Linked DNA regions of Homo sapiens. The main gene of each other region encodes a partner of the protein of the gene in region 3 in a complex. Each region holds a gene or a part of one and is shown on either strand. Other genes may lie near its edges.

What was found. The genes of interacting proteins can lie anywhere in the genome.
Region 1: BUD13 (region 3) and DHX16 share a complex: the UniProt entries of both Homo sapiens proteins name them as parts of the minor spliceosome.
Region 2: BUD13 (region 3) and SNRNP40 share a complex: the UniProt entries of both Homo sapiens proteins name them as parts of the minor spliceosome.
Region 4: BUD13 (region 3) and PPIL2 share a complex: the UniProt entries of both Homo sapiens proteins name them as parts of the minor spliceosome.

Annotation. Positions count from the first base shown.
Region 1 is NC_000006.12:30,658,282-30,663,497, forward strand, and holds part of DHX16 (pre-mRNA-splicing factor ATP-dependent RNA helicase DHX16), read right to left. Parts: intron 4,741-5,216; coding exon 4,630-4,740; intron 4,462-4,629; coding exon 4,346-4,461; intron 4,151-4,345; exon of another isoform or gene 3,576-4,150; coding exon of another isoform or gene 3,475-3,575; intron 2,337-3,474; exon of another isoform or gene 2,289-2,336; intron 1,962-2,288; coding exon 1,751-1,961; intron 1,554-1,750; coding exon 1,455-1,553; intron 1,344-1,454; coding exon 1,191-1,343; intron 1-1,190. UniProt on the Homo sapiens protein: Required for pre-mRNA splicing as a component of the spliceosome. Contributes to pre-mRNA splicing after spliceosome formation and prior to the first transesterification reaction.
Region 2 is NC_000001.11:31,278,564-31,283,779, forward strand, and holds part of SNRNP40 (U5 small nuclear ribonucleoprotein 40 kDa protein), read right to left. Parts: intron 2,934-5,216; coding exon 2,811-2,933; intron 1-2,810. UniProt on the Homo sapiens protein: Required for pre-mRNA splicing as component of the activated spliceosome. Component of the U5 small nuclear ribonucleoprotein (snRNP) complex and the U4/U6-U5 tri-snRNP complex, building blocks of the spliceosome.
Region 3 is NC_000011.10:116,757,772-116,762,987, reverse strand, and holds part of BUD13 (BUD13 homolog), read left to right. Parts: coding exon 1-435; intron 436-2,035; coding exon 2,036-2,253; intron 2,254-3,808; coding exon 3,809-3,914; intron 3,915-4,580; coding exon 4,581-4,719; intron 4,720-5,037; coding exon 5,038-5,216. UniProt on the Homo sapiens protein: Involved in pre-mRNA splicing as component of the activated spliceosome. As a component of the minor spliceosome, involved in the splicing of U12-type introns in pre-mRNAs.
Region 4 is NC_000022.11:21,675,521-21,680,736, reverse strand, and holds part of PPIL2 (RING-type E3 ubiquitin-protein ligase PPIL2), read right to left. Parts: intron 1-5,216. UniProt on the Homo sapiens protein: Has a ubiquitin-protein ligase activity acting as an E3 ubiquitin protein ligase or as an ubiquitin-ubiquitin ligase promoting elongation of ubiquitin chains on substrates.

The DNA of each region.
Region 1 (5,216 bases), on a different chromosome or scaffold from region 3:
CCTATAATCCCAGCACTTTGGGAGGCCAAGGTGGGCAGATCACCTGAGGTCAGGAGTTTGAGACCAACCTGGCCAAAATAGCGAAACCTCATCTCTACTAAAAATACAAAAAATTGGCCAGGCGTGGTGGAGGGCACCTGTAATCCCAGCTACTGGGGGGCTGAGACAGGAGAATCGCTTGAACCTGTGAGGCAGAGGTTGCAGTGAGCAGAGTTGGTGCCACTGCACTCCAGCCTGGGCGACAGAGTGAGACTCCATCTCAAAAAAAAAAAAAAAAAAATTAGCTTGGGGTGGTGGTACACACCTGTAATCCCAGCTACTTGGGAAGCTGAGGCACAAGAATCACTTGAGCCTGGGAGGTGGAGGCTGCAGTGAGCCGAGATCTTGCCACTGCACTCCAGCCTGGGCAACAGAGCGAGACTCTGTCTCAAAAAAGAAAAATAAATAAAGTCCAAACTTTCCTGTCATCAAAGGCCCTCCCTAATCTTAGCCCCAAATTGTTTTTAGCCTTGTCTCCTACTCCTTCACCACATGAACCTCCCACTAAGCCTACTAGCTCACACTCTGACCTCAAACATACCTTGGGCCTTCCTCTGATGACTTCTCAGCCATTTTTCTTTTTTGAGATGGAGTCTCGCATTGTCACCCAGGCTGGAGTGCAGTGGCACAATCTCAGCTCACTGCAACCTCCTCCTCCTGGGTTCAAGCGATTCTCATGACTCAGCCTCCTAAACAGGTGGGATTATAGGCGCACGCCACCATGCCCTGCTGATTTTTGTATTTTCAGTGGAGGCAGGGTTTCACCACGTTAGGCAGCCTGGTTTCGAACTACTGACCTCAAGTGATCCGCCCACCTCAGCCTCCGAAAGTCCTGGGATTACAGGCGTGAGCCACCGCACCTGACCTCAGACATTTCTCTTAAAGGTCCATATCAAATCCCACCTCTTAGCACATCAAGGACTTCCCTTCTCCACTGAATCTACTGTGCATACTTTCCAGATCACATATTTGGCTCTCTCTTGGTTCACACCATATTTCTCCTCTCTTCAGTCCCAGGAACAAGGGACTGGCTGCTCCTCAGCTGTGTGCAGCAGTGCGCAGGACTCACCTTGCATGGGGCAGGCACACAGCTTTTTCACTACTAGTTGTGGGAAGCATAGGGGTGAAGAGTGTGGGTTTCTCCAACTGACCTTTCGTGCCCCAGGTGGTGTGGGCTGGAAGATACGGGCCTGCATGTCAGAGGGCAGATTGGCATAAATGGGCAGCACCAGGAGCTCCCGGATTTTGGAGCCCAGGCGGCGGCAGCGATCCTGGAGCATCTCACAGGCAGCCTCAATCTCCTCCTGGATAGAGGGTAGGGAGAGCAGCAGGGGTCCCAGAGTCACAGAAGGCCAACATGCCGGCCCTGTCTTCCCCTGGGATACATCATCCCCTCTCCCCACCATGTCAGGCACCTGTCCTGTCAGGAACACCAGGATATCCCCAGGGGGCTGGGTCACATGGATCTGCAACACAGATACTACACAAGCTTCCAAGTAGTCAGCCTCTGGAGCCTGGAGAGCAGAAAGAGATGGGGTCACAGGAGGGCCACCTGCTTAGGCAAACCTTTCCTCTCCTCCCAATTCAACATACACTTTATCCTAGTTCCCCTTTGAACCTTCCATTCCATCTTTCCCTCCACAGGATAACCTTCTCCAAAGGCCTCAGCTTTTCTGCCACAGACTTAAGCCCATCCTCCCTGAGGGGGCACCTTGGTGTAGAAGATGTCCACAGGAAACCTGCGTCCGGGGATTCGAAACACAGGGGCGTCATCAAAGAAGGTGGAAAAACGGGCAGTGTCCATTGTGGCTGAAGCCACCAGGACCTTGAGCTCAGGTCGGAAGCGAGCAACATCCTTGATCAATCCAAAGAGAATGTCTGTGTGTAGGGTCCTTTCGTGTGCCTCATCCACCATCACCACGCTGGGGAGGGAATAGGAGAGCAATGAGGGAAGAGCGCTAGGCAATGCAGTATCAGACACCAGAGTTAACTGGATGAGAGGGGAGTAATGGACACAAAGAGTTCAAGAATGACTGTTGACGGAGGGGGCTCTAAGGAGAAGTCAGCCATCCCACTTATGTAGAGCAACAGAAAGTCAGAGAAGGCCAGGGCCCCATGATCTGCAACCTATCCCAGCCTCAGCAGATAATAGGAGACAAGATGTAGAGGCTGCACACTGAGGCCAGGACAAGTTAGCCATACCCTCTAGTTCAGTCAAGAGTCTGCTTAGACTCAGCAGCTGCTCTTACTAGAAAAAGTTGAAGGATATGTTTTAGGCTGGGCATGGTGGTAGCTCACGCCTGTAATCCCAGCACCTTGGGAGGCCGAGGCAGGTGGATCACAAGGTCAGGAGTTCGAGACCAGTCTGGCCAATACAGTGAAACCCCGTCTCTTCTAAAAATACAAAAAAAATTAGCCAGATGTGGTGGTAGACGCCTGTAGTCCCAGCTACTTGGGAGGCTGAGGCAGGAGAATCGCTTGAACCTGGGAGGCAGAGGTTGCAGTGAGCCAAGATCGTGCCACTGCACTCCAGCCTGGGTGACAGAGCGAGACTCCATCTAAAAAAAGAAAAAAGAAAAAGTGGAAGGATTTTTTTTTTGAGACAGTCTTGCTCTGTTGCAGGCTGGAGTGTAGTGGCATGATCTCAGCTCACTGCAAGCTCCGCCTCCTGGGTTCACACCATTCTCCTGCCTCAGCCTCCCAAGTAGCTGGGACTACAGGTGCCTGCCACTGTGCCTGGCTAATTTTTTGTATTTTTAGTAGAGACGGAGTTTTGAAACAGAGTCTCACTCTGTCGCCCAGGCTGGAGTACAGTGGCACGATCTCGGCTCACCGCAAGCTCCGCCTCCTGGGTTGCGTTCACGCCATTCTCCTGCCTCAGCCTCCTGAGTAGCTGGGACTACAGGTGCCCGCCACCACGCCCAGCTAATTTTTTATATTTTTTAGTAGAGACGGGGTTTCACCGTGTTAGCCAGGATGGTCTTGATCTCCTTACCTCGTGATCCGCCTGCCTCTGCCTCCCAAAGTGCTGGGATTACAGGCGTGAGCCACCGCTCCCGGCTGATACGTTTTAAAGGAAAAAAAAAGTGGAAGGCAGGGTCCCTTTCAATAAGGGTGGGCCAGCAAGGCTGACTGGGGGTAATAGACCTGAGCTGCTGTGATTCAAATAGCCTAGAAGCTCCTGGTGTCCTGTGGGACAACTGCTGCTGGCATCATTCTTGACTGTTTCTTCTTTTGGAGACAGGAGCAAGTTAAGCCTTTCTACCTCAACTCTCACAGGACTCTGCATGCTCCTTGGTTTCCTCCTAACTCAGTTATGTGCATGACACCTTCTTTCTCTTTGTTCTTTGGCTTTTCTGGGTGGCAGCCAAGTCCCAGGAACTCATCCCCATCTTCCCCTACCCACCTCCCTGACCTCAACTCTTTGTGCCTAACCCTAACTGTGATGGTGAAGTCCCCAGCCATTCCACAAAGCAGGCTGGCTCGATGGGCAAAAACATCTGCATCAGACACTCTTGCGCTGGCTGGCTCTCCATGGGTTCTTAGAGATCTTTTGCAAGGGATATGAAGGATAAAATCCTATCTGTCCAATTGCTCCACTGTGATCTTCCAAGACCAGAAATTCACAGCCTCTGAAGAGTCAAAAAGGCACATATTGTTCAGCTGGCCTGACCCCACCCCCATTACATTCATGAATCCCTTTTCCCCCTCAACACATGTTCAACCAACCCCTGCTTGGCCATTTCCAGCACTAAGAGCTCATTATTCACAGACCAAGCTACCCAAGACTTGTGTGGAGGGCCAAGACCCAGAGTCCAACCACTCTGACAGGCCCTGCAATCTCCACCACTCTGAGGGTTACTCAGCCATTGGTATTGAGTTGGAATCTGTCTCCCTGTAACCTCCCCATGGCTCCTAGCTATGTCGTGTAGGGTCACATAAAACAATCTGATCCTTCTTTCCATGTAACAGCCTTCACATATTTAGAGGGAACCAGGATGCTTCCTGTTTCTCCCTCTGAGCTGAGCATTCCAAGTGTTTTCAAATGGTCTTCACACGGTATTTCAAGTCTCGGCAGCAATGCTCTGCTATCCTGGTTGTTTTCTAAACCCTGGAGATGAATGGGGAAAGAAGAGGCTTTCTCTACAATCTCTTCTGTCCTCCAGCCCCATCTCCGTGGTACCTGGAGGTCAGTTCAAGGACCATTTGAACCACAAAGATTCAAGAACGGGTGGATTAATCAGAAGACAATGGCTGAATTGGCTGGGTGGGAAGAAGGGAGAGAAAGGCCAGAGATTAGAGATACCTGTAACTCGCCAGGTCAGGCTCAGAGAGGAACTCCCGGAGAAGCATCCCATCTGTCATGTAGCGGAGGACAGTTCGCTCTGATGTGCAGTCCTCAAAGCGGATGCTGTAGCCAACCTGGTCAAGGGAACCATTAGCAACCAAGTGTGGGCTGGTGTGCCCTGAAAGGAACTTGGGGAAAGGTGAAGTGGGGCAGCACCAAGACTTCTGCTGTAGGGACCTGAGGGAACTGTAGACTGAGTCACAGACCCCAGACTCTACCCCCCGGTTCCCTAGAAATCTCACCTCATTCCCAAGCTTCACACCCATCTCCCGGGCCACTCGGGCGGCCACACTCATGGCAGCCACTCTCCGGGGTTGGGTGCAGGCAATCTTCATACCCTTGTTTGTATAACCCTGAATGACAAAGAAAAAAGAAGAAGTTTGCCCTTTACTAAATATGCACCCTGGGACCAGGTACATTTCAGAGAAAGAAGTTGTAAAAACCAGGCAGGAGAAAAGGAGGAAAAGACAGATGCTGAAAACCAGAAAAGAAGGGCAAATAGATAGGATGACAGACCTAGGGCCCTCAAAGGGGGTCCTCACCCAGCTCTGGGTAATTAAGTTCATGACTCTGCTAGACTTGAGCTGGAAAAGAACAGATTAGCTGAGACAGAGCCAGCTAAGGTAAAAAAGCAGGAAGGCTGGGCACAGTGGCTCATGCCTGTAATCCTAGTACTTTGGGAGGCTGAGGTGGGAGGATGGCTTGAGCTCAGGAGTTCGAGACCAGCCTGGGCAACATAGTGTGACAAAAAAATTAAAAATTCAAAATTTTGACCAGGCACAGTGGCTCACACCTGCAATTCCAGCACTTTGGGAGGCCGAGGCAGACG
Region 2 (5,216 bases), on a different chromosome or scaffold from region 3:
CCCAACTCCATTCTGGGAAATATTGTGCACAGCTATTAAAGTTGATCTAAGTTTCCATGTTCTGATTCTTCATTCTCCAAGTATTTATATGATGGAAAAGGGATGGGAAGTTCAATTTTGGAAAACCTGAATTCTTAGGTACCTATGAGACATTCAAATGGGGGATACTGTACAGCTAGTTGTACACAAGGACCTGATGCTTAAGATCTGGGGTGGGAAAATTGTCTTCGGCAGAGGGATGATGGAGTTGTGGAAGTAGACGAGATCTGTCTTGGGGAATGTACACAGCGAGAAAAGCAAAGGCCCTTGGCGAATAATGATGTTTAAAGACTCCACAGACAGAGTAGCTCATAATGGTATGTAGAGAAGGAGAAGAAACTACCAGATGGATAGGACAGTTTGTTGTCACAGAACTCAGGGAAGAGAGAAGACCAGGTCTATGGTACAGAGCGATTATGTTAAAAAACAAAAACACATACAAAAAACAAAAAAAAAAACCAGACTATTAGGAATGAAGAATGAATGGTATGTGAGGAACTGAAGACAGTGAGTGCAGAAAAATCTCCAGGGTATTCCTCTAAGTATTAAGAGTATAATTCTAGAATGAAACTCTGGGATTTGAACTGAGGTTCCATCACGTATTAGCTGTGTAACCTGGGTTTAAGCTGTTGTGCCTCTTTTAGCTCAGTTTCCTCATCTGTACAATCGCATCAGTAGGATTTATTTCATGAGGTTGTAAGGTCAAAGTCTTTAAGATCCGTGAGGAGGTCAATAGCAAAGCTTAAATGAATTAATGATGTAAAGCTCTGAGAACAACAACTGGCAGAAAGTAAGCACTATGTGTTAGATAATGATGATAACAATATTATCACCACCACCATCATCATCCTTTTTAAGAAGTTTTGGGCCAGGCATGGTGGCTCATGCCTGTAATCCCACTTTGGGAGGCCAAGGCGGGTGGATCACCTGAGGTCAGGAGTTCGAGACCAGCCTGACCAACACAGAGAAACCCTGTCTCTACCAAAAATACAAAATTAGCCAGGCATGGTGGCACACGCCTGTAGTCCCAGCTACTCAGGAGGCTGAGGCAAGAGAATTGCTTGAACCCAGGAGGCAGAAGTTGCAGTGAGCCAAGATCACGCCACTGCATTCAAGTCTGGGCGACAGAGTGAGACTCTGTCTCAAAAAAAAGAAAAGTAGAAAAGAAGAGGTTGAAAGAAGTGACGAAGGATTGAAACCCTCACATTTAAAGGACTACCTTTAGGCCGGGCACGGTGGCTCACACCCGTAATCCCAGCACTTTGGGAGGCCGAGGCAGGTGGATCACAAGGTCAGGAGTTCGAGATAAGCCTGCCCAACATGGTGAAACCCTGTCTCTACTAAAAAATACAAAAATTAGCTGGGCATGGTGGCACGTGCCTGTAATCCCAGCTACTCAGGAGGCTGAGGCAGGAGAATTGCTTGAACTGGGACCCAGGAGGCAGAGGTTGCAGTGAGCTGAGATAGCACCACTGCACTCCAGCCTGGGCTACAGAGGAAGACTCTGACTCAAAAAAAAAAAAAAAAAAAAAGGACTACCTTTAGACAAAAGCAAGGATATTCCTTTCTTTTTTTTTTTGGAGATGGAGTCTTGCTCCGTGGCCAGGCTGGAGTGCAGTGGCGTGATCTCAGCTCACCGCAACTTCTGACTCCCAGGTTCAAGTAATCTCCTGCCTTAGCCTCCTGAGTAGCTGGGATTACAGGCACACCACCATCACATCCAGCTAATTTTTGTATTTTCAGTAGAGACGAGGTTTCACCACATTGGCCAGGACGGTCTCGGTCTCCTGACCTTGTGATCCACCCGCCTCGGCCTCCCAAAGTGCAGGGATTTCAGGTGTGAGCCACCACACCTGGCCAAAAGCAAGGATATTTCATCCAAAGTAACAGCAAAGGAAACAATGAGGGATGGAAATACAGTACAACTTCTAGGTAAGGACAACACAGAAAGTTGAGTATCTGACAGTTACTCTTCTTACTATAAAGCAGAAGGTAAGGTCAAAGTCGTTAAGATCCCCAAGGAAGCCAAGAGGAAAGGAAGACAGAAGCTGTGCAGGCCCAAAATAATACATTTCCTGGCACTTGTTATGTCCAGGAATTCTGCTAAGTGCTCTAATGAATCAGGCTCATTTAATCCCCACAATGGTATGTGGTAGATGCTACTGTTTTTTTTTTTTTTTATCATTACCCCCTCACCATTCACACAAGAAAAAGAGGCTTAAAGAAGGTGCTTGAAGTCACAAAACTAGAAAATGGTGAAACTGGGATTAGAACCCAAGTCAATTACTTGAAAGTTTGAGCTACACTCTACTGCCATATGGTCTATTGCCTCTTTAATATCATTACCTTCTCTCATTCTTAGAGAAACTTAGAAAACTCTCTTTCCATAGTGTCAAAAAGAAAAACACAGTGAGAGATGAGGATACAGAATCACAAACTGATTCACTGCTCTCTTTAAACCAAGATGGTTAAAAAAAGATTTTGAATGTCTTTAAAAGGAAATGCACTCTTTATTTTTTACATAGTCCCCCTACAGAGACTTCACACTTCACATTAAGTGCCTGGTCCCTGACAGCATTTATAAGATCTGCAATGCAAACTTTAATTTAGGAAGTCAATGAAGACAGGAGAAAAAGAAAATAAGTTCCAAGTTACTATTTTCCTTTCAGTTGGTATTAAGTGCAAAGCTACCACAATCTCAGAAGTTTGAAAAAATTCGTTTCTAAGTGCAGATAGATGAAATGGAAATATATCATAAACATCAAACATACCTTGATATCATTGTCTATTCCACCAGAAATAATCTGATCACTTGTGTCATTGAAGGTCACAGCTAACACCTGGTACGTGTTCTGAAATGTCTGGATGGCTGCTTTCTTCCGGATGTCCCAAAGCTGAAGCAAAGGACAAGACAGTCTATCAGCAACATCATTCTAAGAAGCAATTGCACAGTACAAATATCCCTTAAGTACGAGGACTTTGTGGACATGAACACATCTATAATTGGGATCCTATATCACTAACTCCTGGATATCCTAATAACACACATGGTAAGCAGTGTGCTCAATTTTGCCAAGACATTTGAAGGCTGGTGAAACAAAACTTCGGTTATATTTTCAGACTTCTTTGTTGAAGTGAACAGAGTTAAATCAACATACTCTTAGAATGGAATTCCCCTAACTACTTAGTTCATATATTTTTTAGAACAACAAGGATATCAGACAATTTTTTCAAACCGTAGAGACTAATTCATTAGTAGGCTGCAACCCACATTTAAAAAAATAGAGGGTATGTCAGTGAAAATAGTATAATAAACAATGACAAAAGCTTGTCCCTCCACGAAAGCAGCAAATTAACCAGCAAAATCTGTCAGAATCAACTGTTGGAACTCTCAAAACTAATCAAAAGTTTATAGTAACCCGGCAAACCCTTAATGAGGAAAAAGGAAACAAAAAACTCCCTGAGTCCCAGTAAAAGGGCTTTGTAGTGTTTTAACTTGTGCTGGCTCTGTCTCCTGCTCAGCAACAGCTTTGAAGATAACCCATATTCCCAGTATGGTTTCCTAGTACTGAGGAAGCAAAGGGGGCCTATTTCTTATTGTCAAAGAATAAACAATAAAAATTGTTTATTTTTACCTGTCTGGTGGCTCTCTGAAGGATGAGCCCAAAGGACTTACATTTATTTTGCCTAACTTGGAACTTCCCTTGAAAACATTTAAAGGAAAGGACATTATTAGCCTCTGGTTCCTGGGGGCAAGGAAAAACAGTTGGGGCAAAAATACAAACCAAAAACCTTGGGAGGAAGGGCTGGGGAAGGAGACAATTTGGGGAATAAGAGCTTCGAAAAGCACCGACATATTCCTGGCTATCTATCTATCTATGTATCTATCTATCTATCTATCTATCTATCTATCTATCTATCTAATCTGGGGACACACTCTCCCTCTGTCGCCTAGGCTATCTATCTATCTATCTATCTATCTATCTATCTATCTATCTATCTATCTATCTATCTTTCTATCATCTATATCTATCTATCTATGTATCTATGTGTCTATCTATCTATCTAATCTCTATCTATCTATCTATCTAGGGACAGACTCTCCCTCTGTCACCCAGGCCGGAGTGCGGTGGTGCGATCTTGGCTCACTGCAACCTCCACCTCACGGGCTCAAGCAATTCTCATGTCTCAGCCTCCCGAGTAGGTGGGATTACAGGCGTGTGCCACTATGCCCAGCTAATTTTTGTATTTTTAGTAGAGACAGGGTTTCGCCACGTTGACCAGGCTGGTCTCAAACTCCTGGCCTCAAGTGATCTGTCTGCCTCACCCTCCCAAAGTGCTAAGATTACAGGCATGAGCCACCACGCCTGGCCCATTCCTGGCAATCTAGACCACTTGCATGTCCAGGGCTGGGCACATACTTAGAAAAGATCTGAGAAGGCCGTAAGCTCTCTGGTTCACCTTCAGGCTCTGCACAAGCAGGAAGTGAAAGCTAAGGAGAGATGTAAACTGCATGGCAAGGAGTTGAAGGCAGGCTCCAACATACAAAAAGACAATCTGCAAAGACTGGGAGAATTTTTGTTCTTGTTGTTGTAGGTAATTTAGGAAACTTGTGTCATTCACTAGCTGACCACTAAGCTAACGAAAAAAAGAATTCAGTGGTCACACAGGACAAAGAATACAAACTTTACAAAATTAGTTCAAAAATTCACTAAACAGGCCGGGCATGGTGGCTTACACCTGTAATCCCAGCATTTTGGGAGGCCGAGGTGGATGGATCACTTGAGGTCAGGAGTTCAAGACCAGCGTGGCTAACATGGTAAAACCTTGTTTCTACTAAAAATACAAAAATTAGCTGGTCATGGTGGTGTGCCCCTGTAACCCCAGCTACTCAGGAAGCTGAGGTGCAAGAATCACTTGAACCCGGGGAGTGGAGGTTGCAGTGAGCCAAGATCGCACTACTGCACTCCAGCCTGGGCTACAGAGCGAGACTTCGTCTCAAAAACCAACCAACCAACCACTCTCACCTTACCCCAACCCACAGAAAGTCACTAAACAAACAACTACAATAAGCAGCTCTGGGGACCTAATTTCCAGAGTCACCACGCTATAATATTTAAATGCCTAGTTTTCAACAAAATATAAGGCATGCAAAGAAGCAAGTAACTATGGTCCAT
Region 3 (5,216 bases):
CTCCCCCAAGGAGGCCTCAGCATAATTCTTCAGGTGCATCTCCTAGGAGAGTCCGTCATGATTCACCAGATCCCTCTCCTCCTAGGCGAGCCCGTCATGGTTCCTCAGATATCTCTTCCCCCAGAAGGGTCCATAACAACTCCCCTGACACATCTAGGAGGACTCTTGGCTCTTCAGACACACAGCAACTCAGAAGGGCCCGTCATGACTCCCCTGATTTGGCTCCTAATGTCACTTATTCCCTGCCCAGAACCAAAAGTGGTAAAGCCCCAGAAAGAGCCTCTAGCAAGACTTCTCCACATTGGAAGGAGTCAGGAGCCTCCCATTTGTCATTCCCAAAGAACAGCAAATATGAGTATGACCCTGACATCTCTCCTCCACGAAAAAAGCAAGCAAAATCCCATTTTGGAGACAAGAAGCAGCTTGATTCCAAAGGTGAGCATATGACTGTCCATGAGAGGGATGTATGTATCCCTGGGAGCTTTCTTTTGGCCGTTTAGTTGATTTATTAGGTATAAGAATGGAATTTCTTTGGGAAAGTTTTGAAAAGTGAGAGGCTGGGTTTGGGAGAGTTGAACAATTATGGTGGCAGGGAGGAAGGTTTTCATATGTCTTTTTATGTGCTCGCTCCACCCCATATAAAAGTACAATTTATTTGTTGCAGAAGCTTTGGAATGTACAGAAGTATATAAAGATAAAATGTGACACAAAATTCTGTCATTCAGAGGCAATTATTGTTAGTGTTGTGGCCAGGGTCATCTTAGTCTTTTTTGGTTTGCATTTTTTATATAGTTGAGCTCTGGCTGTGTAGAACATTTGTATTGCATGTGCAATCTTGCCTGCTGTCCTTTCTTAACGTAGTCTTCCTCAGGCCATAAAACATCTTTATGTTAGTATAATTTTTAATAGTGTTTAATTACAAATTTAACCATTTTCCTAATAATGAATGTTTTTGGTTATTTCTAAGTTTTTTCTTCTGTAATTCTATAATGAACATCCTTGTACATAAACTGTTGTCCCCATTTTGGATTATTTCCTTATCTACTTCTAGATAGATTTCCTCGAAATTCAACTACTTCTATATAAGTTTCCTAGAAAGCTGAGAAGTTGATGTACTGGGTCAGAAGATGTGGGCGTTTTAAAGACTGTCGATACATATTGCAGAATGCCCTTTGGGAGGTGACTTGTGATGCTTATACAGTCGCTAGAACTTAGGCCTGTGCAGTGAAATTTTTTACTCCCTCTTTTGTTCCTAGGAACTATTTTAATTTTAAAATTAAAGTACTTTGTTATCCTTTAGTCCAAGGATATCAGACTATATTCCAGGTATTTCTGACTTTTGCCACACTATGGAGAGCTGACTACAAGTTATTTTGTCTTTCCATGGGTGGGGTTACTGACATAGAGGAGTGTGTGGAGATTTTACACACCAGTTACAGTCAGTGGTCACTTGGGAATAGAATGCCATATTCTACCTGTTGGTCTTAAAAGTTGTTTCTGACTTTGCTCTTCTCCTGTGCCATCCATACTTATGTTTAGGTTAATGATAATTCTTCATAGGAAAACTAAATAAATATTGTACATTAGCTTGGTAAGTTATCTTTTTAGATTCTTCCAAGGGGATTAAAGAACTCTTTGGCCAGGCATGGTGGCTCAAGCCTATAATCCCAGCACTTTGGAGGCCGAGGTGGGCAGATCACCTCAGGTCAGGAGTTCAAGACCAGCCTGGCCAACATAGCGAAACCCCATCTCTACTAAAAACACAAAAATTAGCTGGGCGTGGTGGCACACACCTGTAATTCCAGCTACTTGGGAGGCTGAGGCACAATAATTGCTTGAACCCAGGAGGCGGAGGTTGCAGTGAGCTGAGATCATGCCACTGCACTCCAGCCTGAGACTGTCTCAAAAAAAAAAAAATAATAATAATGTAAGGAATTCTTTAATTTCTAGGTTCTTCTCCCAGCCATAGGAGATTTCATGTAAGTTCTTCACCTAGAGGACATCAGAGTCACACAGATTCTTTGCTCCTATCCAGGTGACTGCCAGAAAGCAACTGATTCAGACCTTTCTTCTCCACGGCATAAACAAAGTCCAGGGCACCAGGATTCTGATTCAGATCTGTCACCTCCACGGAATAGACCTAGACACCGGAGCTCTGATTCTGACCTCTCTCCACCAAGGAGGAGACAGAGGACCAAATCTTCTGATTCTGACCTGTCCCCGCCTCGAAGGAGTCAGCCTCCTGGAAAGAAGGTCAGGATTTTCAGGAGCCATGTCCTTCTTTTCGTGTGACTCTTCTCTCTCAGCTTTATATATGTCCCAGAGAATCAAGCCAAGAAGAAGGATGTAGCTCTGAGAAGTGTAGTAAATCTTAGTTAAAAGGACCTTTGGAGGTCTTTCCTTCTGAAGGCAAACTGGCTATAACCCATCCCAGATGGACTTACAGATACCAGATTTCCCAAGTAGCTTCTGCGTTTATAGCCTCTTAATTCTACAATCTCATTTTAACAGGTCTAGAAAAACTTCCTATTTTCTTAGGAATAAACCGAGGACTGTAATTTGCAGAGTGAAGTTTGGAGCACAAGCATTGTGTCAAACGGATCACATACAGAAATTCTCCTTCTGCCACTTACTGTCTGTGAGATTTGGGCAAGATGCTTAATATCTCTAAACCTCAGTTTCTTTATCTGTAAATTGTGGATAATAGTAGTACCTACTGTGTAAGGTTGTTATGATAATTAAGCCAGTGTAAGTAAAACTCTTAGCACAGTGTCTGGGACAAAGTAAGCATCTAGTGTTAGTGATTTACTAGTATAAATTGGACTATAGGTCTCTGTATCCAGAGCTTAAGGAGAGGCACTTAAAATATGAAACCACTTTTAGAAATCATGTTGTCTGAGAAGTCAATGGTTTGTTTTAAATTCATGATAAGGCTTGATGAATTAGCCAAAAAACCCCAAAATCCATATGAACCTTGAGTAATTATATTGTAAAGAACATTGGTAGTAGTAAAGGAATCTTATTTGTAAGTGGTTAAGAAACAGAATGATAGAGCCTGTGATGTGCATTTTTCTCCCCAGTGCAGACTTATCAGGTAAATCTTGTCTGTAGAAGACTCTGAGAAGACTGGTCCTGGCAGGGTAGACCAGCCTGTTCTTTACCCAGGAAGTGAGATTCTTCTTTTTTAGGGAAAAAAGAGGTCTCTGTTTCAGCTGGACCTCTTGGCATTTTATATATCCATTTAGTTCATGGACAACTTAATATTATTCCAATTTCGTTGCTGAAGGATATCAAGATATACTGTGTGCTTCATTCGTGGGCTGATTTGCTATCTTGATGCTAAGTGGAAATTAGCAAAAAGTTTTCATTTGTTAGATCTTCTGTTATTACCATGAAATATATCCACAATTTAAGGATCTTAGGTTTGCTTGAGTTTGTACTGTAAATGGAATATTTTATCAGTATGGGTCTCTAATGGAAGGCTTAGTGCTTTATACTGGTTTCTGATCAGATGACCTGAGATAGTCTTCATGTGTGCAGTTTATATACTGAAAAGTCAGAAATACAAATGCGTAGCCCTCCATTTAATATATTGTTAGTGTTTCTGCTTATTCTTAAACTTGATGGTTTTGATGATGGTTTTCTTTTATAGTTTTTGAATCCTATGGTAATTATTGAGAATATAAAGCTAGAGTTTTAGGTTTAATTATTGCTGGTCATTAGACACAAATGCAACTAACTGTGTACCCATGGAGCCTACTGTCACATCATCTCATTAATGTTGGATGCTCCCTTTTCCGTTGCATAGGCTGCACACATGTATTCTGGGGCTAAAACTGGGTTGGTGTTAACTGACATACAGCGAGAACAGCAGGAGCTCAAGGAACAGGATCAAGAAACCATGGCATTTGAAGGTAAAAATATGAAAGTGCAGAGACCAATTTAGGCTCATACTGTTTTTTTTTTTTTAATTTAGCTTATTGTACCTGATATTTTGAACTTTTAATTGCTATCAAATTTCAGCTCTGGTTTTATGCATTGTTGTAATTTCTCAGTGAATCCCAGTGCTTCTTTCCTTCTTGAAAAATGCCATTTCGCCCAGGCGCGGTGGCTCATGCTTGTAATCCCAGCACTTTGGTAGGCCGAGGCGGGTGGATCAGCTGAGGTCTGTAGTTCAAGACCAGCCTGGCTAACATGATGAAACCCTGTCTCTACCAAAAATACAAAAAAAAACTAGCCAGGCATGGTGTTGCATGCCTGTAATCCCAGCTACTCAGGAGGCTGAGACAGGAGAATCGCTTGAACCTGGGAGGTGGAGGTTGCAGTGAGCCAAGATCGCGCCACTGCACTCCAACCTGGGCAACAGAGTGAGACTCCATCTCAAAAAAAAAAAAAAAAAAAAAAGGAAAATGCCATTTCTTGGGCCCAGTGCCAATATGCACCAAGATGTTGGTAGGAACTACTTTGGTCTGGCTGCAGAAGTTCTTATCTAGCATTAGAATCCCAAGCGGTTGATTTGATCTCTTAGAATGTTATTTCTGATTTTGATCCTGATATTTGAGTATAATTTTCCTTTGCAGCTGAATTTCAATATGCTGAAACCGTATTTCGAGATAAGTCTGGTCGTAAGAGGAATTTGAAACTCGAACGTTTAGAGCAAAGGAGGAAAGCAGAAAAGGACTCAGAGAGAGATGAGCTGTATGCCCAGTGGGGAAAAGGGTAAGGGAACCACTGAAAGGGTAAACAAGATGGCAGTGACTGGAACAAGTCATTTCTCTGCTCTTCTGATCACTCACTTTCTTATTATGCCTTCAGAGCTGTTATCAGTAATGGGAAATTTGGTGTGCTGAATCTTCTTCCTAGGATATTGATATATTCCACGCTTCTAGTGGGTATTCTGGGAATTTTACCCTGCTCAGTATTTGCCCTAGGGTACTAGAAAGAGGAGATTGTCCAAACTTAGCAGTATGGTCCATCTCGTGTAGAAGTGGAAATGTCATACAGGATAGCAAACACTCTTGGTTCCTTTTTGCCCAGGCTTGCCCAGAGCCGGCAACAGCAACAAAATGTGGAGGATGCAATGAAAGAGATGCAAAAGCCTCTGGCCCGCTATATTGATGACGAAGATCTGGATAGGATGCTAAGAGAACAGGAAAGAGAGGGGGACCCTATGGCCAACTTCATCAAGAAGAATAAGGCCAAGGAGAACAAGAATA
Region 4 (5,216 bases), on a different chromosome or scaffold from region 3:
TGCCTCAGCCTCCCGAGTAGCTGGGACTACAGGTGCCTGCCATCATGCCCGGCTAATTTTTCTGTATTTTTAGTAGAGATGGGGTTTCACCATGTTAGCCAGGATGGTCTCGATCTCCTGACCTAATGATCTGCCCACCTCGGCCTCCCAAAGTGCTGGGATTACAGGTGTGAGCCACTGCACCCGGCCTTGTTTTACTCTGTTTTGAGATGGAGTCTTGCTCTGTCACCCAGGCTGAGGTGCAGTAGCGTGATCTCGGCTCACTGCAACCTCCATCTCCTGGGTTCCAGCGATTCTGCTGCCTCCGCCTCCGGAGTAGCTGAGACTACAGGCATGCATGCGTCACCATGTACGACTAATTTTTGTATTTTTAGTAGAGACAGTGTTTCACCACCTTGGCCAGACTGGTCCCGAACTCCTGACCTCAAGTCATCTGCCTGCCTCAGCCTCTCAAAGTGCTGGCATTACAGGCATGAGCCACTGCACCTGGCCTTGGTTACTGTCTCTCTGCCTGTAAGTCCCCACCCAGTGGCCAGGGGCCCTGTCAAAGTGCCCACTTCTGGGGATAAAAAAGTAAGTGCAGTAGGGGGACTCAGAAACATCAACCACATGTATTTGTGGGGACTTTTTCTTTTTTTTTTTTTTTGAGACAGAGTCTTGCCGTTGCCCAGGCTGCAGTGCAGTGGCATGATCTCCTCGGCTCACTGCAAGCTCCGCCTCCCGGGTTCACGCCATTCTCCTGCCTCAGCCTCCTGAGTAGCTGGGACCTACAGGCGCCCGCCACCATGCCCGGCTAATTTTTTGTATTTTTTTAGTAGAGACGGGGTTTCACCGTGTTAGCCAGGATGGTCTCGATCTCCTGATCTCGTGATCTGCCCACCTTGGCCTCCCAAAGTGCTGGGATTACAGGCGTGAGCCACCGCACCTGGCCTTGTGGGGACTTTTTCTTAAAAAAAATCCTGATTTGAGGCCAAGTTAGAGCCTCAAATTAGTTAGAGCCTCAAGTTAGAGGTGGCTCACACCTCTAGTCCCAGTGCTTTGGGAGGCCAAGGTGGGAGGATTGCTTGAGGTCAGGAGTTTGAGACCAGCCTAGGCGATAGGCTGAGACCCCGTTTTTTTGTTTTGTTTTGTTTTTTGAGACAGGGTCTAGCTCTATCACCCAGGCTGGAATGCAGTGGCGCAATCACAGCTCACGCAGTCTCAACTTCCCAAGCTCCAATAATCCTCCCACCTCAGCCTCCCAAGTAGCTGGGACTACAGGTGTGCTCAACCACACTGGCTAATTTTTAGGTTTCATTTTGTAGAGACAAGGTTTCATTATGTTGCCCAGGCTGGTCTTGAACTCCTGGGCTCAAGCAATCCTCCCACCTTGGCCTCCCAAAGTGCTGAGATTGCAGGCGTAAACCATGGTGCCCAGCTGTTTTTTTTTGGTGGGGGGATGCTGACGCGGGAGGATCACTTGAGCCCAGGACTTCAAGACCAGCCTGGGTGACATAGGGAAACCTCATCTCTACAAAAATAAAAATTAAAAAAGTAGCTGGGGCTGGGCGCGGTGGCTCACACCTGTAATCCCAGCACTTTCGGAGGCAGAGGCGGGAGGATCACCTGAGGTCGGGAGTTTGAGACCAGCCTGACCAACATGGAGAAACCCCGTCTCTACTAAAAATACAAAATTAGCCAGGTGTGGTGGCACATGCCTGTAATCCCAGCCACTCGGGAGGCTGAGCCAGGAGAATCGCTTGAACCCAAGAGGCGGAGGTTGCAGTGAGCCGAGATCACGCCATTGCACTCCAGCCTGGGGAACAAGAGCGAAACTCCATCTCAAAAAAAAAAAAAAAAAAAATTGGCTGGGCATGGTAGTACATGCCTGTGGTCCCATCTACTTGGGAGACTGAGGTGGAAGGAGCACTTGGTCCTGGAAGGTCGAAGCAACAGTGCGCTCTGATCATGCCACTACACTCCAGCCTGGGCAACAGGGCAAGACCATGTCTCAAAAACAAACAAACAAACAAAAATCCTTCTGATGTGAAAACTGTTTTTTAAATTGGGGCTTCAGCATCATGCAAGGGGGTACTGGTGGGAGCAAAGACAGAACTGCACAGATGGGAGACAGCAGGGGCTGGAGTTGATGATGGGCACAGGGGAGGCGTATCACACCTCCTCACTCCACTTTCACGCACGGGGAATTCCAATTAACAAAGAAACAGGTGGGGCGCAGTGGCTCACGCCTGTAATCCCAGCACTTTGGGAGGCTGAGGCAGGTGGATCACTTGAGCCCAGGAGTTCGAGACCAGCCTGGCCAACATGGTGAAACCCCGTCTCTACAAAAAACACAAAAACTAGCTGGGTGCAGTGGTGGTGCCTGTAGTCCCAGCTACTTGGGAGGCTGAGGTGGGAGGATCTCTTGAGCCCAGGAGGCAGAGGTTGCAGTGAGCTGAGACTGTGCCACTGCATTCCAGCCTGGGTGACAGAGACCTCATTTCAAAAGAAAAAAGGAAACACAACAAAAGAAGCTGACTGCCAGGTCAAAGTTTTAAAAGAAAAAAAAAGGCTGGACCTCATTCCTCCCTCAGTGGCTCTCATCTTGGAGCGGAAGCCCAAGTCCTCCTGTGGCTCCCAGGCCCCACAGGACTGCTCTGCACACCATCCCCACCCCTGACCTCTGTCACCACATCCCCTGCTTCCACCGCTAGCACACGCTGTTCCAGCCACATTGGACTCCCAGCTGGGCACAGACACCCTTGAGCGTGCGCCCACCTCAGGGTCTTTGCACTGGCTGTGCCATCAGCCTGGCCCTGCACTCCCCCGATGCCCACACGGCTCTCCCTCCCTGCAGCGGGTCAGGGCGGCCCTCTCCCCTCCCCCTGCTGTGCTCTACACACACAAGCAGCCTCTGGCACACCCTGCTGAGCTGCTCTCTGGTGTTCTCCCCCACCAGAATGCATGCTCCTCTCATTCAGGAGAGACACAGCCTGTTGTGCTCTCTGCACATGGCAGGCACTCAATAAATATTTGCTGTCCCTCCCTCTCCCTCTCCCGCTCCCGCTCCCCAGGGTCTCCCTCTGATGCCGAGCCAAAGCTGGACTGTACTGCTGCCATCTCGGCTCACTGCAACCTCCCTGCGTGATTCTCCTGCCTCAGCCTGCCGAGTGCCTGGGATTGCAGGCGCGCGCCGCCACGCCTGACTGGTTTTCGTATTTTTTGGGTGGAGACGGGGTTTCGCTGTGTTGGCCAGGCTGGTCTCCAGCTCCTAACCGCGAGTGACCTGCCAGCCTCGGCCTCCCGAGGTGCCGGGATTGCAGACGGAGTCTCGTTCACTCAGTGCTCAATGTTGCCCAGGCTGGAGTGCAGTGGCGTGATCTCGGCTAGCTACAACCTCCACCTCCCAGCCGCCTGCCTTGGCCTCCCAAAGTGCCGAGATTGCAGCCTCTGCCCGGCCGCCACCCTGTCTGGGATGTGAGGAGCGTCTCTGCCCAGCCACCCATCGTCTGGGATGTGAGGAGCGCCTCTGCCTGGCTGCAACCCCATCTGGGAGGTGAGGAGTGTCTCTGCCTGGCCGCCCCGTCTGAGAAGTGAGGAGCCCCTCCGCCCGGCAGCCGCCCCGTCTGAGAAGCGAGGAGCCCCTCTGCCCGGCAGCCGCCCTGTCTAGGAAGTGAGGAGCGTCTCCGCCCGGCAGCCGCCCCGTCCGGGAGGGAGGTGGGGGGCAGCCCCCGCCCGGCCAGCCGCCCCGTCCAAGAGGGAGGTGGGGGGCAGCCCCCGCCTGGCCGCCGCCCCGTCCGGGAGGTAGGGGCGCCTCTGCCCGGCCGCCCCTTCTGGGAAGTGAGGAGCCCCTCTGCCCGGCTGCCACCCCATCTGGGAGGTGTACCCAACAGCTCATTGAGAACAGGCCATGATGACGATGGTGGTTTTGTCGAATAGAAAAGGGGGAAATGTGGGGAAAAGATACAGAAATCAGATTGTTGCTGTGTCTGTGTAGAAACAAGTAGACATAGGAGACTCCATTTTGTTCTGTACTAAGAAAAATTCTGCCTTGGGATGCTGTTGATCTATGACCTTACCCCCAACCCTGTGCTCTCTGAAACATGTGCGGTGTTCACTCAGGGTTAAATGGATTAAGGGCGGTGCAAGATGTGCTTTGTTAAACAGATGCTTGAAGGCAGCATGCTAGTTAAGAGTCATCACCACTCCCTAATCTCAAGTACCCAGGGACACAAACACTGCAGAAGGCCGCAGGGTCCTCTGCCTAGGAAAACCAGAGACCTCTGTTCACTTGTTTATCTGCTGATCTTCCCTCCACTATTGTCCTATGACCCTGCCAAATCCCCCTCTGTGAGAAACACCCAAGAATGATCAATAAAAAAAAAAAGAGGTTTGGAGAAATAAAAAATAAACAATAACACACACACACACACACACACACACACACAAAATAAATAAATAAATATTTGCTGAATGAGACACACACACACACACACACACACACACACACACACTGCTGATCACAGGAGGGGAGGCAGCCCACCCTCGGCCACCAGGGTGGAGCGCCGTGTCCTCCACCGACGTCAATGACGTGCTGAGGTTCACCCATTCATTCACCTGCGAATGCTGCACCGACTGGGGACCGGGCTCTGGGCTCAGACAAGCGGGGCAAAAGGGCCTTGGCCTCAGGTGCTACAGCATCTCCCTGGAATGCATGCACCCAGTAAGCAAGGACAACCCCTAAGCCATAGCATCTCCACAGGCAAAAGACCTGGACTAGAACCTAGCACAAGATCACCACCTGGGCAGGGGTGGGCTGCACAACTCATCCGGGCCTCTGGCCACAAGAACAGCGGAAGGTGTGTAATGGGCATGAAGCAGGAGCCGCAGCACTGGGCTGGGCTCTATGAGCTGTGGCAAAGAAAAGCCTAGCCCAAGAGCTACTGGACAAATCCCTCCAGACCACCCACATCCCCTACTCAGCTGCCGCCTTGGTTCCCAGCATGAGCAACTTCTGCCTCCAACAACAAACAGACCACAGCCTCAGCCAGAGGGGGCCCATGCCCTGCAGATCCAACTGTGCCCACAAAGGCCACTAGCAGCTTACAATGGCCTGATCGCCTTTGTGGGAAGTTCCCAACACCACAGGTTCTGCCCCCAACCTCCCCCACCTTAAAACTACCCAGACCTTTGAGAAGAAATCTTGTGACACCTTTTTTTTTTGAGACAGAGTCTCG